3 separate regions of the Homo sapiens genome follow, and regions 2 and 3 are each linked to region 1. The links come from fine-mapping of genetic effects on gene expression. A gene starts in region 1. Each other region holds a variant in brackets. All regions are shown on one strand. Distances are from middle to middle.

What was found.
Region 2: its variant is fine-mapped to the expression of TBILA in whole blood (TOPMed, PIP above 0.99). The same link has a PIP of 0.9 or more in T cells and blood mononuclear cells.
Region 3: its variant is fine-mapped to the expression of TBILA in whole blood (TOPMed, PIP above 0.99).

Annotation. Positions count from the first base shown.
Region 1 is chr3:112,130,001-112,136,100 of GRCh38, reverse strand. It overlaps TBILA (TGF-beta induced lncRNA), which reads right to left and starts at 2,678. Exons shown (of 1, transcript NR_157393.1): 1 at 742-2,678. GCSAM (germinal center associated signaling and motility) reads left to right here and starts at 2,853. Exons shown (of 6, transcript NM_152785.5): 1 at 2,853-3,009; 2 at 5,588-5,656. The coding sequence starts at 2,981. It also overlaps a transcript of C3orf52 not described here. RefSeq lists enhancers at 2,528-2,707, 3,188-3,247.
Region 2 is chr3:112,082,879-112,088,978 of GRCh38, reverse strand. C3orf52 (chromosome 3 open reading frame 52) reads right to left here and starts at 2,590. Exons shown (of 6, transcript NM_024616.3): 1 at 2,434-2,590. The coding sequence starts at 2,571. RefSeq lists silencers at 2,676-2,725, 2,746-2,795, 2,846-2,895 and an enhancer at 2,412-2,928. The variant C/A (reference allele first, on the strand shown) is at 2,706.
Region 3 is chr3:112,072,082-112,078,181 of GRCh38, reverse strand. TMPRSS7 (transmembrane serine protease 7) reads right to left here. Exons shown (of 18, transcript NM_001395507.1): 14 at 3,770-3,886; 15 at 2,690-2,861; 16 at 1,038-1,306. Among named protein-coding and RNA genes, the nearest start is that of C3orf52, 11 kb to the left of the region's middle. The variant C/T (reference allele first, on the strand shown) is at 3,072.

The DNA of each region.
Region 1 (6,100 bases):
TGGAGGTAGATTTGCAATTTGGAGTCAGGTGTCAACTGAAGTTAGACTCCAGAAAATTGTATTCTGGAATACTTGAGCATGGAGACTGCACATGGACATTAGGGTGTGTGCTCTGAGATAAACGAAAGCTACAGTGAGAGAACATAACCAATCCCAAAGATAATTTCAAAGAACAATGACAGCAAAGGTTAGGTGGGAGTAGTATTTGACAATGCTTATTTGATATTGTCTCTCAGAGCTGCAAACTAGATTATACAAGTCATTAGCGTCAGATAGCTTTAAAGTTGTGACCTTCCTTTACATGAATTTTCTAGCCAGTTTCCTATCCTTTGCAAGAGGTAACAAAACATGAAACCCTAGAATGTGTGAGTTCAGGCATTAGGTATATAATAAGGAGGCTCTCTGTCCAGGGCTGCTTTCTGTCTTGCAGGGGCTAGTGAGTCTTGTGTGTTTTTATTTTATTCTCACATTTGTGTTTTTTTAGAAAAGTGAATGATCAATAATGGCTTATCTTTTATAATAAAATCTTCCATTTTTAATAAGGTGCTCCTGGAAATCCCTCACAGAGCCAAAAGGAAGTTTGGAGAGCAGCCATAAGGATAAGAATGATGTGAGATGAATCTGGGGTTGCACAGCTAGTACCCTAGTTTCTCTGAAATTGTTTCTTCTAAGCCCACTCCCCATCCTTCTCCTGCCTGTTTTAGATATGACCTTTACATTACTCAAGGACAAGCAATAAAATATTTTGCACTTTGTTTTATTTCTTTCAAGGAACTTCACAAGAGCAGTCCTGTATCTGCTTTTCTTACCATTGAACCTACAGTGCCCAGCACATAGTAGGCACTCGACACATACTTGTTAAAGGAATGAACAAACAGATGAGTGACCAAACTGGAAACAACCATCAAATACAAGGATAATACAAAAATCCATGATTCCTGTCCCGAGATTTCTTTCTTTTTTAACCTTTTGTCTGTTGAGATTCATTTATGTGCAGTGAAGTGCACCCTTATTAGTATACAGTTCTGTGAATTATGAGAAATGCATACAGTCATGTGGGCACTAACACAATCAAGATAAAGAACAACAACAAAAAATTTCCTCCTGTGCTTTGAAAGTCAACACCTCCCCCACCTTTTGCTCCTGGCAACACTAATATGTTTTCTGTTCCTGTGGTTTCACCTTATCTCTAATGTCACAGAAGGTAGGCTTTAAGTCTGGTCTCTTTCACTTAGTGTAATGCATTTGAGATTGATCCAAGTTATTGCATGTATTAATAGTCCACTCCTTTTCAATGATGGTCAGGATTCTGTTGTGTGGATGTAATATAACACAGAGCTTATTTAGCAATTCACTCAATGAAGATCAGTTGGGCTATTTCCAGGGTATTTCGGCTATTATGAGTAAAGCACATATAAAAATTTGTACACACAGTCTTAGAGGACATAAGTTTCACTTGGCTAAATGCCTAGGAGTGAAATTGCCAGGTTGTACAGTAACCCTATGTTCAATTTTATAAGAAATTGCCATACTTCTGAGATGGGAGAGTTCCCTTGACCCCTTCTCGGGACTTGCGACAGGGGTGTGGCCTACTTACTTGGCCACCACCATGCTCAAACTCTCTGTGGGAGCGGGAGCACGCAGGCAAGCGGGTGCCAGGGCTTCGATGAGCACTTTTGGGCTCCAGCCCAACAGCAGCATTTAGGGATGTGTTACAATTCATGCTCTTTTAGCAGTTGCCATCCGTGGACAGCTAAGTGTTAACCCACTCAATGGAGAGTCAGGGTGGCAGCCTTTTACACCCTGCCCTGTTGGTACCCAGGTTCTTGTTCAGCATCCAGGAAGAATCAGGTTGCATGAATGGTTTGAAAGTTGATGGATGTGGACGATTTTATTAAATGGTGGAAGTGGCTCTCAGTGGAAGGGGAGCTGCAAAGGGGATGGTGCAGGAAGAAAGTGACCTTTCCCTGAAGTCTGCTGTCTCTGGCCGGGCTCCTCCCTGAAGTCATGCCACCTGAAGTTAAGCCACATCTCTGACACTCAGTTGCTTCTTCTCCTCTTGATGTTCAGCCGCTTGTCTGTCTGCCAGCTGAGGTCTGGGGTTTATATGGGCACGGGATAGGGGGGCTGGACAGGCTAAAGAGTAACATTTGGGCAGGATAACAGGGATAACTGTTCTCATTTAGGGCTTCGGTTTCAAGGCTTGAGGGTGGGACCTTTGCCAGTGAACCACCCTCTTCTACCCAGTAAAGCCCTGCCTTCTGTCCTTATCACTTCTTTCCAAAAAGGCTGTCATTTTGCATTCTCATCAGCAATGCATGAGACTTCCAGTTGCTTTGCATACCTTGCCATACTTGATATTGTCAGGGTTTTATAGCCATTGTAATAAGTATGTAAAAGTGTTCCATTGTGGATTTGATTTACACTTCCCTAATAACTACAATGTTTAGCATCTTTTAATGTTCATCTGTATAGTTCCTTTGGTGAAATGTCTGTTCAAATATTTTGCCCATTTTGTTACTGGGTGTTTGTTTTCAGATTTGAGAGTTGTTGATACTATATTTTCTACAGGTCTGTGGCTTGACTGTTTTAACCTCCTTCTGACTTTTCTAAGAAGACAACGTGATTTATAAACGTAAATATCTGTAGTGGAAAAACTCCCATGGCCCATCTGTAATTTCAGACCTGGGATTCCCCAGAGGTTCGAAGCTCTCATTGACGGGTAGTTGCTGGTTATGGCCAACAGCCAGGTTGGTTCAGGCACTGACATGTTAGGACATTCTGCACATGCGTGCCTCTAACACTCCTCCCCCAGCCTCTTCCTTCCCTCTGCAGAGACACCCTTCTCCTTTCTGCTGTCTCTGCACGGGTGGCCAGAGCCACACAGCCCTTTCTTTAAGTCAGGAGTTGCCCTGTCAGAGCACAAGGCAAGAAGGAAGTGGTAAAGGGACGGAGGGGAAGCCCTGAGAGGACTGAGAGGATGGGAAATTCTCTGCTGAGAGAAAACAGGTAAGTCTAGACTCCCTGTGGGAGAGCAGAGGAGATGGGACAGGACAATACAGCAAGGAAGAGAAAAAGAAAGCTAGTATACAGTTAGCACACTAAGTTGGGGTAGAAAGTAGTTGGGTAAGGAAACTGCCAAGCCTTCAGTGCCTACTCTGTGCCAGATACCACATTAAATTTCCCATAGGTTTTGCCTTCTCCCAAGAATCATGGTGAGCAGCTGATGGAGAATAGCTGAAAGGTGGAAAGACTTTACCAAGGAAGGTCTATATAATAGGTTACCACCTAAGAAATGAAACAACTTTCTGAAAGCCCGGGAAGGAGATGCTCTCCTGAGCTCCTCATGCTCCACAAGGAGGTCAAAATCACCACCCTCTTTCAGCCACTATTTTAAGTTTGAAATAAACAGCAAGCTTCCTGCCACCTTGAGTCTTCCTTTGATGTGCACTCCCTGCAAGCAGGTAAGCAGAGGTCATCTAGATTAAATAGGCACAGAACTCAGATTTACTTTCTGGACCTCAGCCTCTTTATTTTAAGTAGAAATAATAATACAATATCTACCTTAGAGAGTTCTAGTGTGTATTGTGCTAGCATAGTGCCTGACATAAAGTAGGGTTCAAAATTAGAAGATATTTTCTGCTTTCTTTTTCTGACCATCATCTTCCTTAATATCAAAGCCGTGCCACCAAAATAGTGCCACCACAGACAAGGTAATCTCTAGGGTATAAAGTGGGGTGATCTAGAGAGAGTAAGCGAGCCAGAGGGGGTCTTCACAGGGTTATGTTTGGAATCCCTGGTCTCAGTTCATGCTACTGGAGAGTGGAACACAGGAAAAAATGGTAGCCCACTTTTGACCACTTGCCGAAAAGAGGATTGGTGGTCCTGTGGAATATCTCATGTCCCTTCCTAAGAATCATGTTGTCTGAGACTTCTCTACCCTGGGTTGTCACAGCCCCTTGTCAATCTTCTACTCTAGCATTGTTCTAACAATTATATAAATTACTATTTTTATTACTAGATATGAGATGCTCAAATGTAGTGATTGTTTCTTATTTATCTTTGAATTCCTGGTTCCTGGCATTGTTTCTGGCATATCACGTGCACTGAATAAGTGCAAAAAAACTTTAAAAAAATTTTTTTACTTTAAAATTTTGTTTTATGTAAGAAAAAAAACCTTTTTCCAAGGTGCACACATCTTATGCTATTTGGACTTCTTATGGTTTTTTATTTATTTTAAAGAAAATTCGATTTTAAATCTAGAAAGCTTTTTGGTTTCTGCCATTGCATTCATGCTTAAAATTCTTTGCTCTTCCTAAGATAAGACAAATCAACTCACATAAGTTTTGATTTTGTTATTTTACATTTGGCAACATATATTCAATATATGGTGTCAGATGTAAATTTTTTTCCAAATAGTTGATCAGTTTGCCCAACATCTTTATTTCTATGATGATTTAAAAGGTCTCCCTTGAACCAAGTGCAGTGGCATGCACCTGTAGTCCCAGCTACTCAGGAGGCTGAGGCAGGAGGATTGCTTGAGCCCAGGAGTTTGAGGGCAGCCTGAACAACATAGCAAGACCCAGTCTTAAAAATAAATTCATTAAAATAATTAAATAAAATGTTTCCGTTAACGTATTCAAAAGTCTTGTATATATTGGTATCTAATTTTCATTGTCACCCCAACACCCAGTTATCATCTAGTCAGCATACCCCCCCAACCGTGTCTCTCCAGATCAAATAAGCTAAGAAGTCAGGGAAATTTTGCACAGAATAGAATGGCACTCATCCCTTCATGAGAGGAGCTCAGTCTCAGAGGAAGAGACCTGCCAGCAGCAAACCCAGCTTTTCCCCCTTAGTGGCTGTGGATCCTCAGACCAGTTGCCTAGCATTTTGGGCCTCAGTTTCCTCATTAGTATAAAAAATATAATGATAATATCTATCTTATGGATTTATTCTGGGATTAAATGAAATATAACACACAAAATGATTGGCATATAGTAAGTAGTGTTTAAGTGTTAGTTTCTTTATCCTCATACTCCCAATTCCCAACAAGTGGGAAGATGGGTATACAGAAATCTAACCCAAACAATGAACCAATTTATTTTCTTTATTCAATCCTTTTCTTCTCCTTCTGTCCCTTGTTCTGGGCCTCCATGCTTTCTGTGAAAGATGGTGTGATTTACACAAGACAAAGCCAGTACCTTTCCCCATTACTTGTGCATAGCTCCTGGAACTGCACCAAAGAGATGGTAGCTGAGGACCTCAGGCCTCTCTCTGGACACGGATACTCTCAAGGGTCATGACGAGGATCCCTGGATATTTGGGATCAGATGATTTAGGATCACTTGTTCATGGAGGTTGGAGAACATCAGTGGGCTGTTGCTGTGGCAATGGAGAGCATGTCAGATCAAAGGTAGCTTGCGACATGTGCTTGAGGAAACAGTATTAACATGTGTGAGGGCAACCAGTCAATTTCTGAGTTACACACAAATAGCAGAAATGAGGAAAGTCGGAAAAATTATGAAAAGAAGTGACAGGCCTGTTTAGGAAATACTTAGCCTGTTTCTGATATGTTGAGTTTCAGGCGGCAGCAGAACACTCAAGAGATGCCTTGGAATGTGAGAATGCAAAGCCCCAAACAGAGAACATCCAGGTGAGAGCAAAATCAACCAAACACCCCCCAGACCTTGCCCAAGGAGAACGAAGTATGTCAAGCCCTGGACTTCACATCCCAGTGAGAGAGGGCCCTGTTTAGACCAGTAGCAGTTGCAATAGTAACAAATGTGAAGACAGGACAAAAGATAAAATGCTTGAAAACTTTGGACAGGAGATATGCTACTTTGCTAGAAGCCTAATGTAACTCCTAGCAACAGGAACTAAGACCCTGCTAGTCCCTGTTATGCCCTGTTATAAAATAAAAGGTCTTATTTCCTGTTGTCATTTTGTTTGTCTATCTCAGGTACCTTTGTGCTCAACCTCCACCCTAGCCATTTTATTTTAAGCTATAGGTGTCTATTTCTGAAGTGACCACATGCCCCATGTTACGACAATTTTTAGAAAGTTTGTGGAGACACCATTGTGATTGCCCTGATGTTGT
Region 2 (6,100 bases), 47 kb after region 1:
AAGAAAGGCAAAGAAGTTCCTTCTACTGCTTTTGTTCACTCTCCCACCACAGCTCTTCCAAGGAAGAAGAGAGATGTCTTCTTCCCAATCATTCCAGAACTGTTCCCGATTCCTCACCCATCCACCTGCAACTCCATCATTCCAGATGTGATACTCAACTCCTAGCTCACTTAAATTGCCTAATTATAAATTACCTAACTTATAGAAATTAGTAATAATTAATAACTTAGGCAACTATAAACAAATGAGTATAAATTATATATAACATATTTAAATTAAATGCTGATAGATAATAGATAGATAGATAGATAGATAGAATAAATCAACAGAAACAGCAAAGGTTTGAGATCTAAAAAACATACGTTCAAGCTTCAGAGGCACCACTGAGTGAACTTGAGGATTTTGGTAACTCCTCTGAGCCTCCCTCAATTTCTTCACTCAGCATCTTCAATCTGACAAACCAGAATACTGACGCCTTCCTCTTAAGTTAGTTGTGATAATTAAATGCATTTATGCATCAAAAGTATTTGTCACAAGACAGTTACTAAACAGGGTTAATGAAAATACATGGACTTCAGCTACATTTCAAAATTAGAAATCTTAATATACAGTTCAAAGAGACCAACACACAAAATTCTTAAGTGTCTGAATCTTTTTAATGAGCCTATATTTATTGACTTTTCTAACTGAAATACACTTCACTTTATTTTATAGGACAAAAGAGAATGATTAACACATTAGATGAGATTAGTTCAAGGCATTCCTTGAACACACTCCAAGTACTCCTGTAGCCCTTCACCTTCACTCCATCCTGTTACTGAGGACAGCTCTCCTATTGGGTGACCTACAAAGCTAACTTACAAAGAAGTCCAGGGTATCTGTATATACCTTACTAACAAGGACGTCATGAGAACATTAAAGAACCATTGCTACAGGGTAGGTGCTAAACAATTACAGAATACTGATAACCCTGCATGGATTTGGCTTGTTCTACCCACCACCTGTTTTCAACAAGGCATTCCCAGGCCTCACAGAAGGCCGAGTAGGCACACATTACCACTACGGGACAGGCTTGCCTCTGGGACACACTTCTTAGTGGCAAAACTGTCACCAGATTTCTGGATTCAGCCCCAAGCTAGGGAGTCTTTAGGGTGTGCGGGTCCATCTAATCTGAGGCAAGTATTTCCAACTCCCATTCCTGGACACCGCCCTGGAGGACTCATACAGCCAGTTCACAGTTGTGGCCACTTGCACTGGTGACCAGACTATCTTTGTTCAACCTTCATTCTTCTGTGGCATTCATATTTTATTCAGAAATAAGTTTCCAAATTACTCTCCAGAGTACCTATAAAAGCAGACTTTGCAATAGTTCCAGGAATCAATGTAGAACAAAAGCAATGCTTTCAACTTTTGAATTTCCTGCTTATCCCTAAAATCAACAGCTGGGCAGCCAAAAAGTTGGGGGTGGAGGAGTGGGGCCTAGAAAGATCAGGTCGGGGCTCTATATGGGGAGTTCTGTGCACCCAGAAAACCTCAAGCCAATCTTAGGAGTTAATCAGAAGGTGGATGGCTGGGAAGTCAAAGCTCTGATGTTTTACAAGTCTTTGATGAGAGTGAATAATGTTCCCATCATTGCTAGGGATGAATCAGAAAAGAGCTTGGCCTAAAAATAGCCAGGGACTTCCTTAGGGATTGAGAGGAGGTAAAAGCAAGGTGGGCGAAGTCTCAACCTTCGAGACAAGAACTTTGAAATTATTTTCTTTCAATTGAGCAGGGCAAGTTCACCTCCCCCGCGCCGACCCCCTAACCCGCCCGCCCCATCTCTACGCCAGCCCTACCCCTTCTCCCCTTCTGACCGCTTTCTCTCCTCTGTGCTCTCCCCTATCTCTCTTCCGGCAGAATCCAATGGCCAGGCTGGGAGAAGGCAGAAAGTGCTTGGCGGATGGTAGGCATGGAAGAAGGCTGGGGGCTGCGGCGAGGTGGGTGGAGGGGAGGGAGAGAAGTGGCAAGGCAGTGAAGGTAAGAGGAGGACAGAAGAGATTCTGAGAGAAGGAGGATACTCAATTTGTCATTCTCATTCTCCCTACTGGAAAAAAGAAAAACTGAATTAAAAGTTACATAACTTTAAAAAACTACTTCCATCTCCGGAATACCTCTCTGAAGACAGCAGCGGCCACACCTCACCACTAGGATTCCTAAAGCGCCTCGGGGGTCAGAGGGGTTGGAGGACCCCAGGGGCTGGGGAGGGGACTGCTCGGGCCGAAAGGTGTCGCGGTGACTCGGCTCCATTCAGAGCACTCGAGCGCGCCCCACCCTCGCTCGGCGCCGTCGACGCCCCGCCTGACTGGAAACCCGAAACTCGCGGGTGCCAGGCCCGGGTCCTACTACTGTCCCGCCGCCGGCAAGTTAGGGCCAGCGCCAAGGGGACCTTACCTCGGCCGGGGGGACCTCCTCGTCCAAAGAAGGGAAGACCTTGTCGGCACCATTGAGAGGCGTGTTCTCTTCTGGCTGCCGCTCGAGCACCGAGAGCTCCAGCTCGTCTACTGGCTGTGAGGGTTGGGCCAGGTCCATGTGCCGGCAGGGAAAGTCTGAGCGGCTCCGCGGGAGGCCACAGCGCCGGCGAGTCGAGCGACCTCCCCGCCTCACACTCCACCCACTGGGCGGGGCGTCGCGGACCTCGGGCGGCGGGAGCGGACCGGAGCGGA[C/A]AGGAGGGGCAACTGTGAGTGGCGGCCACTCCCTGGATCCCGCGGGGTAGAGCACCTGAGGCCGTGCCGGAGTGGGCTCCAGAGCCGAAGGCTGTTTTTCTGATTTGTTCAGGGCGCTGCCTGCTATGCCTTTCCCCGCGCCTGCAGATGCAGACCATCTCCGTTTAGGGGCTGCCTGGGTGCCGGGCTGTGGTAAGGAAAGGGTGGGCCCGGCAGCACCGTCCAACGGAGAAAAGTTTGCGATCTAACCCTACGAACTGTTGGTTGTTGGGGTTTGCCACAGTCCTCGCGGCCTAGCAAAAGTGCATTCATTCAATCAACAAATAACCATGCCTCGTGCCAGCATGGTGCTAGGTTCTGAGTGCATGAAGGTGAATAATATACACCAACACACTTCCTCGCAAGTCCAGAGTCAGGCACAGAGACAGTATTGTGTGGTGCTGGGGACAGCGGACTCTAAAACCAGTGTACCTGGGTTATTCTCCACCCAGAGGGTTCCTCACTGTGAGACCTCGGTCTTCATCTCTCTGTGCCAACGTCCTCATCTGGAAAGTTGGTGTAATATTTGTACCCTCCTAAATGTAGTTGTTACCAGGATTACAAGGGTTGTTGTAAGCAAAGCACTCAGAACAGTGATTGACACAGCAAGCACTCATAAATGACCATTATTATTTATCTTTGAGAGGAGGGGCCTTACACACACACACACACACACACACACACAATGCACGCGCACACACAATCTCCTTGACACCCTATCTGTAGTTCAGAACTTCCGGTTTAGTTAGCATGGAATTATGTTTGTTAAGCACAGCATGGGTTGGGCCAAGGGCCTCAACTCTCAAGCTTCTGTTCCGAATAGTCTTGCTCCTTACTTCTCACCCTCCACGCAACACACACACACACACACACACACACACACACATTAAGACCAGACCATTAACAAGAAGCATATAAATCAGCTCCACTCCAAATATGTTGACTTGAGTCCAAAAGTCTGGCATCTTCAGTACCTGATGTTGAGACACAGCCTAGATATCCTGTCTCCAGCAGTCTGATGCCTGCTACCAGATCCCCTGAACTTTGGATCCATCTGCCTGCTAAGGGGAGTCTGCAGTGACTCATCTGCTGACCTGCACTGACTTCTGCTCCAACAGGTGGATCTTGCAAGAATCAGGCTGCATTCTCAGCTGGGATTTTTGAACAGGTTTTTTAACCAAGGAGCAAGGGTTAAGGGAATCAACAAGGCATGGTGACGTACCCAGGGACTAGCAATAGCGAGAAGCTGTTAACACTCCTAGGCCTAAAAGGGACTGGAGACTGATAAAGAACTAGAGCCATTGAAGGGTGTGGGAATTTGCAGGGAGGTCTTGATAGGATCTGTAGTCACGAAAACATGCAGACCTGACTGGAAGCACTGACACCTCTCAAACTTCTGATTCTCCCCACCCCCATCCTTACCCAGGGTCCAGAAAACTTTTCTCATAGTTCCCTTATTTGATTGCAGAAGTTCATCCTAAATGTGAGATTTTTTTCTCACTTCAGATGGATAGTAGCTATCTCCATGCCTGATTTCTCCATGCACAGATACCTAAAGCCTCCCTCACTCCCCCAGAGAATCAAAAAGCAACTGTTCCTGTCTCAAGCACACCCTAAACCACATCTTCTAATGCCTTTTGAGTACTGTTAAGCAAGGTTTATATACTCTGTAATTAGATTTAAATGCATTTCTATAATTCCATATGCCTAACCCTTGTTCTCATGTTACAGTGGAAGGAATATAAGTTCTGAAGGCAGACAGAACTAGGATCAAATTTAGACTCTCACTATCTGTGTGTTCTTGGGCAAGCTGTTCAATGTCTGCTTGTTTTCTTATAAAATGATTCCTACCTAGCAGAGTCAGGAAGATTAAGGTAAAGAATTTATTCCTGTGCCTGAAAAATGAAAGGATCTCAGTAAATGCTCCATTACATTCCCTGACTGTGTCTTTGTGGCTAATACCCACTCTCCCCCGACCCTTAGCACCCAGCACTAACCCTTGATTCAATATGTTTTCTTTTGATATTGGTTTTTCTTCCTGTGCTGTCCTATTTTCCTGATCACTGACACTTGCTGACACCTCCCATATTACCTGAACTAAATTCTTATTTGCAACCTGTTCCTGTTCCTGTTAACTGCAAATTTCTTAATCTCCAGACAGCTGACCTAGAATGCAGATGAGAGTCCCAACCCTACCTGAAGACTTTCTTCATCCTGCCAGTTTCACTCCACACTAAGGATTCAGAATAAGTTAGGAAGAGGTGTTTCTCCCTAGAGGTACAACCAAGTTTAGATTAAACGAGTCTGATGAAAGTCAAGAATTTGTGAATGAGGAACCAAACTCTACCTAGATTTGTTTTTGTAATTCCTTCAGAATTCATTTACATAAGGGTGGCTTTTTAAATATACTATTATTTCAAAAATAGATTTCTTTAATATAATTTAAAATTATTATTGACTCAATTGCTTTAGTTTGTTTGAAGTGTCTAATTTAAGTAACATTAAAAAATTAAAACATACTTATATTTGCTGACCAATATAAGATTTTTGATGTTGCTTTTTTTTAATAGTACTTGCTCTTCTTTTTAAATCCTTTTTAGAAGCAAATAATTTTCTAAATGGTTATCATATAAACTGAAAAACAAAGTAACATCATCAGAGTGATATCACCAATACACCAAAGGCATCTCATTCCCTTCAAATAGGTCTGTGACTCTGGAATACGCAACAGTTTGTTCCTGTGTGTTGTCAGATGGCAAGCAATACTACTCCGAACGTCAGCAACTGGGTCAGCCACTCAAGCTAATCAAGTAGAAAACAATTGAGAAATGGTTGCTTGTGGTGCTTCACTGTGCTATTTTCAAGGCACTGTGAAAGAAGGCATGAGTCCCTACAAGTTCTCCCTGATAATATGGCACGTGAAATGCTTCTGTCTTAATTTATGAAGGCCATTTTGCTCTGCTAACAAAACCATTCTTGGGACTTGCCTTACTTCACACCTTTGCAAGAATGAAGTGGATATTCCCACATCATTCAGGTTCTAAATGCATCTTAACATGCAATATCCAAGCAAGTTATGTTTGTTTTTCAACCTTTTCCCTGCCCCAGCACTGCTACAGCATATCGTGTACTCACTTTAATACCAGTGAGGGCCTATAGAGGTAGTACATACATGTGCTTTCAAAAACTCCCTCTGATGAATCTGATGGATCATGCCAGCCCTCCTCCATCCCCTAACCGAGATCACAGACTTATGCAAAGGTTTTCATGTATTTTGTGAAGAGCAATTCTATGCCCTAGAAATGACCATAAAGTAAAAAGTACAACTCACCTTGTATATAGGTCACAGCCATCCA
Region 3 (6,100 bases), 58 kb after region 1:
AATCAAAGCACTGAGCACAGTAACCTATCAAAGTTACAAGTGTTCACAGTCAGCTGCCTTCCCTCCTTGGGACCCTGAGACTTCAGTGGACCCAAGCTGGTGGTATTACTACTTCAATCACTAAATGAAAGCACTGAGAAGCTGCCTTTGAGAAGTTGCCCACACTTTAGAGTGTCAAAACGAGGCTACAGGGCAAGGTTCAGGAATTACAGATGCTGTACGTGTCCTAAACCCTTGAAAAGGATGGCAAAAGAAGGTGAGGTGATTGAAAGATCAAGGGAAAATATTAGCACTAGCGTTTGGGGATACATTCACAAAGCATTGGATTCTTCCCCTCACTATATATTCAGAATCCCACCTTGAATCCTGGACCATGAAAAACCTTGGCAGGGTAGATGTAGGGACTTCCCTACTATACAGCCTGATCTTTATGCATATTGAAAAGATGTCCTCTCCCGTCAGAGAAATAGCAAAAAGGTATCTCCTCTGGGTGGACCAAATCCAAATCCTGGAGGTATAACCTCCAGGCCTGAGTTTCTGGTCTGGAAACTAAGGGCAGTCTGAAGTTCAGCCCTTACTCTCATCCCTTGGCCAATTGCACAGGCACAGGTCATACCCACATAGTCTCCCAGACTGTTGCCTATGAGTTGACATAGTGGGATGTGCATGTGTGTCCTTCTCTCCTTTATAAATGAATCATTTCTTTGAATGAAAAGGGAGGAATTGCTCCTTCTCTAGTGAATAACATAGCATAACCTTCAGAGTTTGAAAAGGGCCCATGACTATCTAGTCAATCCTGCCTTGCTCATACACAGTCCTCTCCCTCTTTATAAGGTGAGCCCTGCTTCTTTTAAAGCAGGTGGATAGCATCATTAAAAAGAAATAACAGTACCCTCCTCCAATCCAACCTTCCAGAGTTGTCAGGAGGTTCAAAGGAGATCATATACACAAACCCTCTCTGTGAACCCTAAAGCACTACATAAACACCTTATCATCCTCTGCAGGGGAAGGGCATGACCATTCATTCATACACACACCTGCTTCGTGTCTTCGCCCCCAGCCAGTTACCCAGCACTTCTCCCCACTGCGAACTCTCTGACCAGTGGGAGGAATGCATATTGGCTGAATGAGCTGTTTCAGGGTCTCAGGCCAGGCAATACTGAGCTGTAGCAAAGCAATATCATAATCAAAAGTCTGACTGTTATAGTACTCGTGGACCACAATTCTTCTCACCGGGGAGACAAACTTGGCATTCCCCTGAACATACATCCCGAGGTGTGCAGTCCATGGTGTGGGATCTGACAGCCTGATAGAACAGTAATGAAACATAAAGTTAGCAGCTTAAAGAACCACATACAGTTTGCAAACAAGCACTCTAAAGAGTTGAGGGCTGAAAAAGAAGGGCCTGACTTCCAGGGTGTTATTATAGTCACTGGCTTTGTCCGGGGACCATGGCAGAAAGCGTAACTGTGAGCCTCCCTTGTCTCCCTCAAAAAGTCAGAAATGACGTAAGCTGTATTAGGAGTGGCAAGTAATAGAAAATTCACTCAACAGTGTCCTAAGCAAATGCCTGGACATTTTCTTTCCACTAGTATTTCATGAACCACACACAGGTCAAGAATGTTGGTAACTAGAATTAATTTGTTACATTCTTCCTATTCATGCTGACAATGGCATTTGATGGAGAATCCTACTACCAAATTCAAATGATATGAATACCAAGATAGATTAGAAATCAAAGTGCTATAAGCAGGAATTTAATGAAATTCCTTCTGGCAAACTACTGGAAGCCTTAATGATCACTACTCTTACTGCTCAACAATGCCCATTCATAGGGTCACCAACTGCCATTCCCATCAGTCCTTCCAGAATCCCAATCTTGACCTCCATGACCTTGCACAAGTCACAGAAGAACTTGTAATCTCCATGTGAAGCGTCCATCTCCATCAGCATAGCAGTGGGGTAAAGAGTGGGAGTGAAAAAAATGAGGAAGCCCCAAAATTTTGGTCACTAATTTGCTTAGCTGATGTCTCATGAGTGTCAATGGACACCCAAAGAAATATTAGGGTTAATACATTATTTGGAGCAGTTTCACAGCATTAGAGACTCATGATCAAACAGATGTGAAGCTATCTTAATAATTAACACAAATCCTATAATTTTCAGGGAAACAAATATCCAAACTGTGTAACTTCATTGAAATACTAAAAAAAAAATGCAGAATGAGAAGTGAATGATTTTTTTAACCTAAGATTCAGTAGATTCCAATAGTAAGTTTAAATTTTAAGTGAGGTTATTTTCTAAGATGTCCTCTTACCCTTGGCTGGAAGAGCATCTATCCCATCATAATCCCATTGGGGACCTCCATTCTCCAGTCACTCTCCAGTGCCCATTTTTCTCCACATTCTCCACACATTCTCTTAAGTTTGCTCCCTCTGAGTTAAAAGCCCTATCTTATTTTCCCAGCCTTAGTAAAAGCCTATTCATTCTTGATGTTTCCTTTGTGCTTTTTTTATACCAATAATACCTTAAAAAAAAATGTTTGTCACACACGTGGGATCCAAAAAATGAAAGTGCAATTGAATTGATTGAATGTCCCCAACAGGGATCTGCTTCCCACAATTTGAGGGCAGATATATTGTCTATGGCCACAGAGTGCCACTTGAAAGTAAGGACCGTGAGGCCCTACCTGTTTCCATGAAAACAGTGGGCTGCAGAAAGAAGCCACTCCCTGGAGATGACTGAGGCACCACAGTAGGCAGATCCAACAAAGTGGAGGCTGACCTGCCACGGCCAACCCCCCTCCAGGGTGTCTGTGCCTCCGATGATGCGGTGAAGGGCGGAGGAACTCCTGCTGCAGGCTTTGGTGGAGAAAGGGCATGTGATTTAAAGGTAGACTTGGAAGAAAAACTAGAAGTTAAGCCAGTTTTAGTGCTGGCTGGGAACTGACTCACTAGGTAGCAATTTGAAATCTCCTTATCTAGAGGACAGAGAACATGTGAGTCTGTCTGAAACCAATACAAACAAACCACTCCCTCCTTCCTGAAGCATGCCCTGACACAGTCTCTATA[C/T]CACAACGCAGATGAGAGGAGGAGGGGGACCTGCTGTAACAGCTGAACTGACACAAACAGCTGCCTATGGATTTAGATTGTCAGGTAAAGAGGAATGTAAATGAATTGAGAATTTCTTTGAAGTTGTGCTGATGTGACAGAAAGGATTGGGGAAAAGATTTATAAGACCTGGACAAATGAAAACCTACAGGGAAAACTAGTTATCAGAGCAATTGTTTGCTAGTGTAAATAGTATTGGTAAAGATGTATAATTTACATGTTGCCACATGGCCAAGTAGTAGCCACATGACTAATAGGAGCATGTGGGAGATTAGTTATTGAGTCAGGCCTAAAGAAACAGCACTTGATATTGTTAGTAACATAAGGCATTAACAGGTCATCCACTGCGTTCCAGTTTCTATTTATTTTCTCACAAGGTTTTTATTTAAGATCTTCTCCCTTGATTAAAATTATTAAAAAGTGAAAGTTCTCATTTTAAAAATTTAATTCATTAATGCTGTTATCAAGAAGACAGAATCCATTCCAGAGTTTTTATTTCTGAGAAACAATTTCAGACTCAGTTTGTCAATAGTTACTATTCTTGTTTTGGCTATGGCAACCTCGATCAAGGGAAATACACCAAGAAGGGAATGAAAATATAACAAACAGGTAAACTGAAGAGGGAATACAGGAACCCAAAGGAATGAATTTCTACTTACTGCAGCCTTCTTCATCACTTCCATCTGGACAATCCACTGTCCCATCACATTTTGCATTTTGTTTCCTAAAGCAAATATCATTGCCACACTTAAAAGTTCTGTTGTTGCATGGAATACCTAACAATGGACAAAAGAAGAAACAGCTTTCCTTAGCCAGAAACAAACTTGAGTGAATGAGATTTGAATGAATAACTCCAAACCCCATAAAAAATGGTTTAATCACAGGATTGGTATTTGCTGCTCTGGGATAAATGGCAGAGAGAAGAGAAGCAACCTCACAGTGATCCATTTCTTCACCTAAGAAAAGCCATTTGAACGCTGGCAGGCATATTTGTTGAGAATCAATCCAACCACCTCTTCTTTCTCCCATAGCAGGTGAGACATGAAGAAGTGCGACATATCAGTGGCTTTAGGCTGCAGCCTCTTTGCTATTACCTTCTCTTATTCTCCAAGAAAACTTTTGAGCAAAAATCACAGCCATGCTCAGTTATTTTATATCAGTAGGAGGCAAAATGGACAGACTTGTGAATTACAACACATTTGTTCACAACCTTGGAGGTTTGTTTCTTCAAGGGTGAGAGTGGAACGTGTTCCATTCCAGTATTTGGCAAGTTCCTCTACATCAGGTCCTCTGTATCCTACAATCCTGAGCATCATTAAAAGCAAGTAAGCAATAAGAAACTGCCAGTATTACAAAAGAAACTACCATCAGAGTGAACAGGCAACCTACAGAATGGGAGAAAATTTTTGCAATCTACACATCTGACAAAGGGCTAATCTCCAGAATCTACAAAGAACTCAAACAAATTTACAAGAAAAAAACAGACAACCCCATCAAAAAGTGGGCAAAGGATATGAACAGACACTTCTCAAAAGAAGACATTTATGCAGCCAACAGACACATGAAAAAATGCTCATCATCACTGGTCATCAGAGAAATGCAAATCAAAACCACAATGAGATACCGTCTCACCGCAGTTAGAATGGTGATCATTAAAAAGTCTAGAAAAGGCCAGGCGCGTAATTACAGGTGGCTCCTGCCTGTAATCCCAGCACTTTGGGAGGCTGAGGCGGGTGGATTGCCTGAGGTCAGGAGTTCGAGATCAGTGTGGCCAACATGGTGAAACCCCATCTCTACTAAAAATACAAAAAAAATAGCTGGGCATGGTGGTGTGCACCAGTAATCCCAGCTACTCGGGAGGCTGAGGCAGGGGAATTGCTTGAACCCGGGAGGTGGAAGTTGCAGTGAGCCCAGACTGTGCCACTGCACTCCAGCCTGGGCAACAGAGCAAGATTCTGTCTCAAAAAAAAAAAAAAAAAAAAGTCAGGAAACAACAGATGCTGGAGAGGACATGGAGAAATAGGGACACTTTTACACTGTTGGCGGGAGTGTAAATTAGTTCAACCATTGTGCAAGATGGTATGGTGATTCCTCAGGGATCTAGAACTAGAAATACCATTTGACCCAGCAATCCCATTACTGGGTATATACCCAAAGGATTATAAATCTTGCTACTATAAAGACACATGCACACGTATGTCTATTGCAGCACTATTCACAATAGCAAAGATTTGGAACCAACCCAAATGTCCATAAATGATAGACTGGATTAAGCAAATGTGGCACATATGCCTGGCTTGGCAGGTCCCACGTCCACAGAGCCTTGTTCACTGCTAGCGCAGCAGTCTGAGATCCAACTGCCAGGCGGCAGCCTGGCTGAGGGAGGGGCGTCCGCCATTGCTGAGGCTTGAGTAGGTAAACAAAGCAGCCAGGAAGCTCAAACTGGGTGGAGCCCACTGCAGCTCAGCAAGGCCTACTGCCCCTATAGACTCCACCTCTGTGGGCAGGGCATAGCTGAACCAAAGGCAGCAGACAACTTCTGAAGACTTAAACGTTCCACTCTGACAGCTCTAAAGAGAGCAGTGCTTCTCCTGGCATGGCATTTGAGCTCTAAGAACAGACAGACTGCCTCCTCAAGTGGGTCCCTGACCCCTGTGTAGCCTAACTGGGAGACACCTCCCAGTAGGGGCCAAGAGACACCTCATATAGGCGGGTGCCCCTCTGGGACGAAGCTTCCAGAGGAAGGATCAGGCAGCAATATTTGCTGCTCTGCAATATTTGCTGTTCTGCAGCCTCCACTGGTGATACCCAGGAAAACAGCATCTGGAGTAGACCTCTAGCAAACTCCAACAGACCTGCAGCTGAGGGACCTGACTGTTAGAAGCAAAACTAACAAACAGAAAGGAACAGCATCAACATCAACAAAAGGGACATCTACACCAAAACCCCATCTGTAAGTCACCAACATCAAAGACCGAAGGTAGATAAAA